Linked DNA regions of Homo sapiens. The protein of the gene in region 2 purifies or fractionates together with the protein of the main gene of each other region. This does not show direct contact. Each region holds a gene or a part of one and is shown on either strand. Other genes may lie near its edges. The genes, in order: SLC36A4 and PCYT1B.

The links.
Region 1: the proteins of PCYT1B (region 2) and SLC36A4 fractionate together in Homo sapiens (co-fractionation; one large-scale study listed by BioGRID). This does not show direct contact.

What each region holds. Positions count from the first base shown.
Region 1 is NC_000011.10:93,180,704-93,184,530, forward strand, and holds part of SLC36A4 (neutral amino acid uniporter 4), read right to left. Parts: intron 3,818-3,827; coding exon 3,727-3,817; intron 2,192-3,726; coding exon 2,103-2,191; intron 1,084-2,102; coding exon 988-1,083; intron 179-987; coding exon 94-178; intron 1-93.
Region 2 is NC_000023.11:24,637,323-24,641,149, forward strand, and holds part of PCYT1B (choline-phosphate cytidylyltransferase B), read right to left. Parts: intron 3,140-3,827; exon of another isoform or gene 3,020-3,139; intron 1-3,019.

The DNA.
Region 1 (3,827 bases), on a different chromosome or scaffold from region 2:
TCAAATTCAACTGTGGCTTCCACAGAAGATATATGAAGCCATAACTAGGGCTTTAGAAGAAAATGATTTCACTAACTGGAGAAAAATACTCACTTGTTTCACATTTTCAGCTAAGAAGACAATATAAACACTACAGAATCCCAGCTGTGTTATCACCAGAAAAAAGTCAACCACACTCCTGAAAAAAGATATCCACAAATGAGTATCCAGGAGAGCTACTGAAATGTCAATATATTTTATTTCTCTTTTCAAGAGTTTTAAAACATTTTATTATAGCATATATTCTCCTACTCAGTATGTCAGGAACTCAGAGCAGTTCATGCCAAATCTAACTTCCTGAAAATCTCCAGAAAGGCCACACTTAACTATAAACTACTCTACTAACACTGTTCTTCTTTTAATTCCCATCTCACATGTCATCTTTACAACAGGTAGCACTTTGCTGACTGCTTATGCTTCCTTATTTTTCTAGTCCTGTATTCATCTTACTTTGATTTGCCAGAGCCACCAATAATAAAGTTACATTTAAGTAACAAGACAATAAAATAAGGTTATGCTAAAATATAGCCATACCTCAGATAAGCATACAAATACTACAAATTTATTTGAAATAATGAGACTGCAACATTTTTCTTGTTTTCCTTTATTTAAAAAATTAATGAACACGATTATGTCATCATTTGACCAGGTCATGCTTTATAAATATCATTTTACTTCATCTACCATAATGATCCTGTGAAATGGGTATTACTGTAAACTCATTTCATACTGAGAAAAACAAACCACAATGATAAATAATTTGATCAAGGTCAGAAAGCTGAAAAATGGTCAAGTTGAGATTAGAATCTAAGTCTGTTTAACTCTAAGGGTTACATATGTTTATTCCCCAACTTTATCATATTTTTATTTATATATATTGTTAGGTTAAAATACTTAAAATTAACATAATTTTAACAATCATATATTAATAACAGAGTAAGTACTTACCGCCCCCATGCTGCTTGCTTCTGAAGACAACTCCAAGGACTCACTTCCATAGCAAAGCTCACAGTGTCACTATAACCTAATGTTGACTTTTTAAACCTGTAATTTAATGACATACATACAAAGGAAAAAAGAAAAATTTTAAGGTGGTCCATAAAACCACCTCTTGAAATAAACATAAAATAAATGGGAATTAATAAATGCAAGGCTATGAACTGACAAATGAGTTACCAAAATGTCAAGATCTGCATACTTCTAAAGCATGCCTCATAAAGTTTTAAATGTTTAAATCTGTCCTTTTTACCAGTACATTAATTTTATCTACTGCTAAAGTTTATGTAAGTGCAGAACTCATGTAACTTAATATTTGTACTTTATTAATTTAAATATTTCAAATGCCTAAAACATCAACTACATTATTCATGTCTAAATTATTCCATTCTTAGAACAGCATTATTTAATAATACATCTGTGCAAGGCTGCACAATACATTTTCACATAAACTATCTCATTTAATCTTCCCATGAGGTAGGTATTATTTCTCCATTCTCTCTTTTTTTTTCCCAAGTATACATTGTTCTATAAAGCTCATAAATGATTTGCCCAAAGTTTTAAGAGTATATAACAACAACAAAAAAGAGTCAAGACTTGATATTAGGCTACTAGAATACATATGGTCTACTGTCCAGTAGAAGTATTTCATGATACAAAAATAAAGACAAATAATATTGTGTTGTTGACTATCTACTAACTCATACATCAGCAGAGAGCACCAAAGGCATTATAATCAAAACAGAATTACTAACACATTGAAGACTATTATGCTATAGCTAAAAATCACACCACTGTCTCCATTGCCTCTATATATCTTTTCTAATTTTTTCCATTTATACTAAGAGAAACCATACTATTTCACTAATAAGGCTACCTTTTAAAAATAAATAGATTCCAACCAGATTTAAATTATATGAAATGCTACCTTCTTCCATATTCATTACCTTAGATTTATCTACGTAAAAGCTTAAACGAAATACAAAGCACAGTAGAATATAAGACTATCTGATGCTGTAAATAAAAGATAGCTTTAAAATAAATAGGCTTAACAAATCCACATTTACCTCAGACATAGAAAGTGACTGCAACGTACCAATATGTGCATACAGTGAACAGAAATAATTCCTATAAACACAAGGCTGATTGGTCCAAGCTGTGGGGAAAAAAAATTTATAAGGTTTAAATATTTAACAGAAATTGAGTAATCTTATAAGCAATGAATCAATGGATTATTCACGTGCAGTGAATAAATATTTGTTGAGCAAAATGATTAGTCATTGCATAAGGGAAAACTAATAAACTTGATGCAGAAGGAATTTCGAGTAATATTTAAGACAACCATGTATAATTCCATCTTATTAACATAGCTACTCAAACCTACGAATATGGAGTATAGACAACAAAGTAGGATAGAACACAAGATCATATTTAACATCAGATGGCAAGTCTACAACTATCAGTGACCCACCATTATAATTATATGCAACCATGCATCATTATCTAAATCCCGAAAACGCACAATATCAAACGGAGACTGTGAGCAATTTATTTCTTCTACAGACTGCTTCTTGGGTACTTACTATGTGTCAGAAACCATGCTTATAAAATAATTATTTCAAAAAGTAGTAAATAAAATACTTTAAATATTTATTTACTAAAATTAAAGCAATGCTAGTAATTACCCAGATACAACCAAAATATTGCCAAAGTTTATTTTTATAATCAAAAGTTTTTATCATCTAAATTAGGGGAACAAAACAGTCAAATGCAGGGATAGTTAAAACTGTTTTTAGAAAGTGGTCTATTCAAAAAAGTTAAATATTATTTTATTACCTCATAAATGGGTTTCTCCCCTATCAAGGTTCTCTGCAATTATAATAATTACAATAACTGCCTCTAACAATGCTTTACATATTGGTTTTTAAAAGTTATTGTTATTACTTTTCTTTTATTTATTTATTTATTTTTTTTTTTGAGACAGAGTCTTGCTCTGTCGCCCAGGCTGGAGTGCAGTGGCGCAATCTCAGCTCAATGCAAACTCCACCTCCTGGGTTCACGCCATTCTCCTGCCTCAGCCTCCCGAGTAGCTGGGACTACAGGCATCCGCCACCACGCCCGGCTAATTTTTTGCATTTTTTAGTAGAGACGGGGTTTCACCGTGTTAGCCAGGATGGTCTCAATCTCCTGACCTCGTGATCTGCCCACCTCGGCCTCCCAGAGTGCTGGGATTACAGGCATGGGCTACCGCACCCGGCCAACTTTTCTTAACTGTTATTTAAATTCTGAAAACTGTATATTTGACTCTAAAAAAACTATACAATGTCACGTTACCAATAATCTGCTCTATAAATATATTTGTTGCTGTGATTACACTGCTAAATTCAATTCCTGAAAATCTAAAATAATAATAAGATATAACTATACCTGGAAAAATCAAAGACTGTTTTAGGTTTGTGGCTTTTTTTTGGCTAAATATTACAAATAAGTAATGAAGTAGAAATGAATAAAGTAATTATTATTTTTTGTTAAATATCATTATCACAGTTGACACAATTTTATCAAGACAACATCTAAATGATCATCTAAATGTCACCTTACCAGGTTATATTTGACTAGGCCAGATATTAGGTTGCTATAAATGAGACTGAGAACTGCATCTTAACTGGTGATTACAAAGATAAGTCTTACCACTATGCCTGCATTTTTTATTGCCAATGGAAGTCCTAAAAGGCCAGTTCCAATATTTCCTTTAAGAAGGTGCATAAGAGTTTGTACAAATCTGAAAAGTA
Region 2 (3,827 bases):
CAACTCCCAGCTTAATCAGTTAATATTTGATCTTTGGGGCCGGGCACGGTGGCTCACGCCTGTAATCCTAGCACTTTGGGAGGCCGAGGCGGGAGGGTCACTTGAGGTCAGGACTTCAAGACCATCCTGGCCAACATGGTGAAACCCCATCTCTACTAAAAAAAAAAAAATATATATATATATATATATAAATTAGCTGAGCGTGGTGGCGTGCACCTGTAATCCCAGCTACTGGGGAGGCTGAGGCAGAAGAATCACTTGAACCTGGGAGGCGGAGGTTGCAGTGAGCTGAGATCATGCCACTGCACCCAGCCTGGGTGACAGAGCAAGACTTCATCTCAAAAATATACATATGTATCTTTTTGGATCTTTGGGAAATTACTTGATTATTTATTTCCTTACTTATAACATGAGGAATAGTAATGCTTATTTCATGGGTCTGCAGCCTGATTAAATGAGATAATACATATAGAGCATTCAACACAGTGCCCAATACAGTGTGCACTGTGAATGGTTGTTCAATTCCCCGACTTGCCCATGGAGAAAAAGGAGTGAGACCACTAGCCTTGCATCCCATATAGAACAATTACCTTATAACTAAACAATTTGGAGGTACAATAGAATTTATTATTATGTGACTGTGCCTACAGTCAATATTAGGCACACCAGAGATGAAACACAGAAGCCTGCATGTACCAGGAATGGGCTTTCAACATCATTTGGTTGGCAATAGGCTGTACACATCATTCATGATGTTTCTATTAACCTATTACCGTTGTTATTTTTCTTAAATGACAGTTTAAATAACCCTCAGCATCCTGATGTCAGGTTCAGCATGCATGAATTACCGAGTAGAAAACAAAAACACCAAGTCAAAGATTTTGGCGGGAGGGAGGAGATTATATGAAAATGAATTCTGCTCAATAGGCTAGCCCCGTGTGGCCCTGCACACTATTACACAGGCGCACACTACCAGGGCTCACTGCTTTATTTTCTAATCACTGTGTTTTCAAGTCTGCCTTCAAGATTGTTGAGTGCTAAACTGTCTCTTTATCCCCAAGCAAGGTCAGCTTCCCAGCCTCCCATACAACCCAGTTCATGCTGGGATAAAGAGGAAGGTAGGAATGTTAAAACAATAATGCTATGGTCTGAGGCCAGCAACGGGTAATCAGATCCTAGCAAGGTAGAGGCTGTTACCTGGGAGATTATTGGAAGAAAATAGGCCTAGCTTGCAATGACTTAGTTTGTTTCTACCTTCCTTGCTTTTTTTTCCTTTTCATTCTTCCCCCCAGTGATCTGATGGGATAATTATTTTCCTGCATTTATTTCCCTAACAGTCACTGAGAAGCTTTGTGTGGGGCACCAGCTAAAGATGTAAGAGTTTTGGGACTACAGCCTGACCCATTGCTGGACTTTAACCCCAAGTAGCAAGCTTAGATGGACAACATTGATTAAGAAAGGCCTCTATAGTTCAAGCCCATACTGCCATGCCTCAAAGAAGGCCCAATGTTTCAAACTTCTGTAGTATGAAATAGATAAATTAGGAGGCTACTGTTCACATTAAGAAGAGATTCAACACAGGTTTCCCGAAACAATGAATAGAACATTCCATATATGATTTGGAATACATTCAACCTGTCTGAGAAAGCATCTGAAGAATAAAACAGAAGACAGCAGAAGTGGTTTGTACAACATCAATGTAAAACTTCAAAGTGCTTGTGAACATTTGTTATTCATATTTAGCCAGTGTGTCTTACCATAAGATCATGCAACCTGTTTTTACCCCAAATGGATAAAACCAACAGGGGGTGAGGAATGGGGTAGCCCAGACTTTTGATAGGAGCATGAGCTCAAACAGAACATACTGCAGTAGACCAAGTTCCAAGGCAATGAAAGCTAGAATCACACTCTAAGGATCTATCCAATCCATTGTCGGGGACAGAATGGAATCCAGAGAGGAAAGTGATTTGCTTAAGTGCACACAATAATTCAATGGCAAAACTGACACTGGAACAAGACTATGGGCTCCAGCAAGTCCAGACCAAGCTTTAGCACATTTGTCTTGACAGCCCCCTGTCCTTTCACCGTGGGCTAGTTCAGCTCTCCCTGGCCAGATCTAGACTTGGCTTGATGGGCATTGGTGTGGAGTCCCAGAGGCCACAACGAAGCAGATCCATTTGCTCTCATCACTGCATCTCATCAGGAACCATCTCAGCCTTTCCACTTCTCCCTACCCACAGCCTGGAGGCCTCAGGAGAGGACATATCCTGGGGCTGGACTCAACTACCCAGGATATACCAGAATTATAGTTCCGTACTAGCCAGAAATAAGCCACCATGATTTTGCTTCCACCTTCACAGATGAAAAACAGGCTATCAGATAGAGAGGCCTTCAACTTTCAGTACCCTTCCTCTTATAACTTGTTCTTGCCCAAACCATCCTTGCCAGCTTCCTTGCCACTACAGTGGGAGAGGTGTCTTTTTTTCTCCCTGAAGCCAATCCTTCCACTTGTGCACTGGAGCCCAACCTGTCCAGCCTAAGAGACATTCCCTTCATCAGTTGTCCCCATCACCATCGCCCCTTCCCTCTCCCACTGGCTCTTTCCCATTTATATTTAGGCACAAGTTGCTATCATCTTAAAAGAATGAGCCAACCAAAAGATCTGACATCTTGGATGGATGAAAGGAATGAGAAATAAAAGGAAAAAAAGATGAAGGGAGGGAAGATGAAAGGAACGAAAGAAGGAAGGGGAAAAGCTAGTCTCTAGTAACCCTAAGCCCTGATTTGTCCACCTCTGGGTACTGTACATTCTATCTGCTTCCTCTCTCAGTCAAGCTTCCACTTCCCTACCACCTATAGGCTCCTCAATCTACTGCCATCCAGCCTCCGCTCCCACCACTTCACTGAAACATCACCACTGACCTCTTCTTTCTAAATCCAAAGGAAACTTTTCCTCCTTAACTCATTTGATCTCTCTACTGCATTTGATTCTATTGGACATTCCCTCCATGAAACTTACCCTGCCCTTGGTCCCTTGATCTCCCAGTTATTTGAGAAATACTTCTCTGTCTTCTTTTCATGATCCTTCTTCTATTGGCCCTTTAAGTAGTCTTTCTTAGGGTTCCAACCTGGGAAGATTCTGGGATAAAGTAGATTAGCTTAACCAGATTTCATGTAGAGACAGATGAATAGAAGGAGGAGTCTAATAGCTTTAATTACAGCTCCTCTATTTTCCCCCTCTAAGAACCTGATAGGATGGCTCAGGGTCAGTTACTTTCTAGAATTAGCCCTGTAGTGGGATTATCCTGAGGCACTCTTCCTAGGTAACCATCTCCATCCACTTCCTTCTCAGTCCAGAAACTATCTCAATTTCACTCTCATCCATTTCACTGCCTCAATTTCACTTCCATCTCCTCCATGCTATCTCCCAGATCTATATCTCCAGCTCAGAACTCTCTCCTGAGTTCCCCAACCAAACATGAACTAGACACCTCCAAGTGGAAGTCCCCATGGCACCTCAGACATAACTCTCACAAACTCTACTTCCCTGGCACACCCATCTCAGTGATGGCACTCACTAGTTGGAGCCAGAAAACAAACTGTGCCTTCCTTGATCTTTTTGTTTTTTTGAGATGGAGTCTCGCTCTGTCACTCAGGCTGGAGTGCAGAGGGATGATCTCGGCTCACTGCAACCTCCGTCTCCCGGGTTCAAGCGATTCTCCTGCCTCAGCCTCCCAAGTAGCTGGGATTACAGGAGCACACTACCATACCCGGCTAATTTTTGTATTTTTAGTAGAGATGGGTTTTCACCAGGTTGGCCAGGCTGG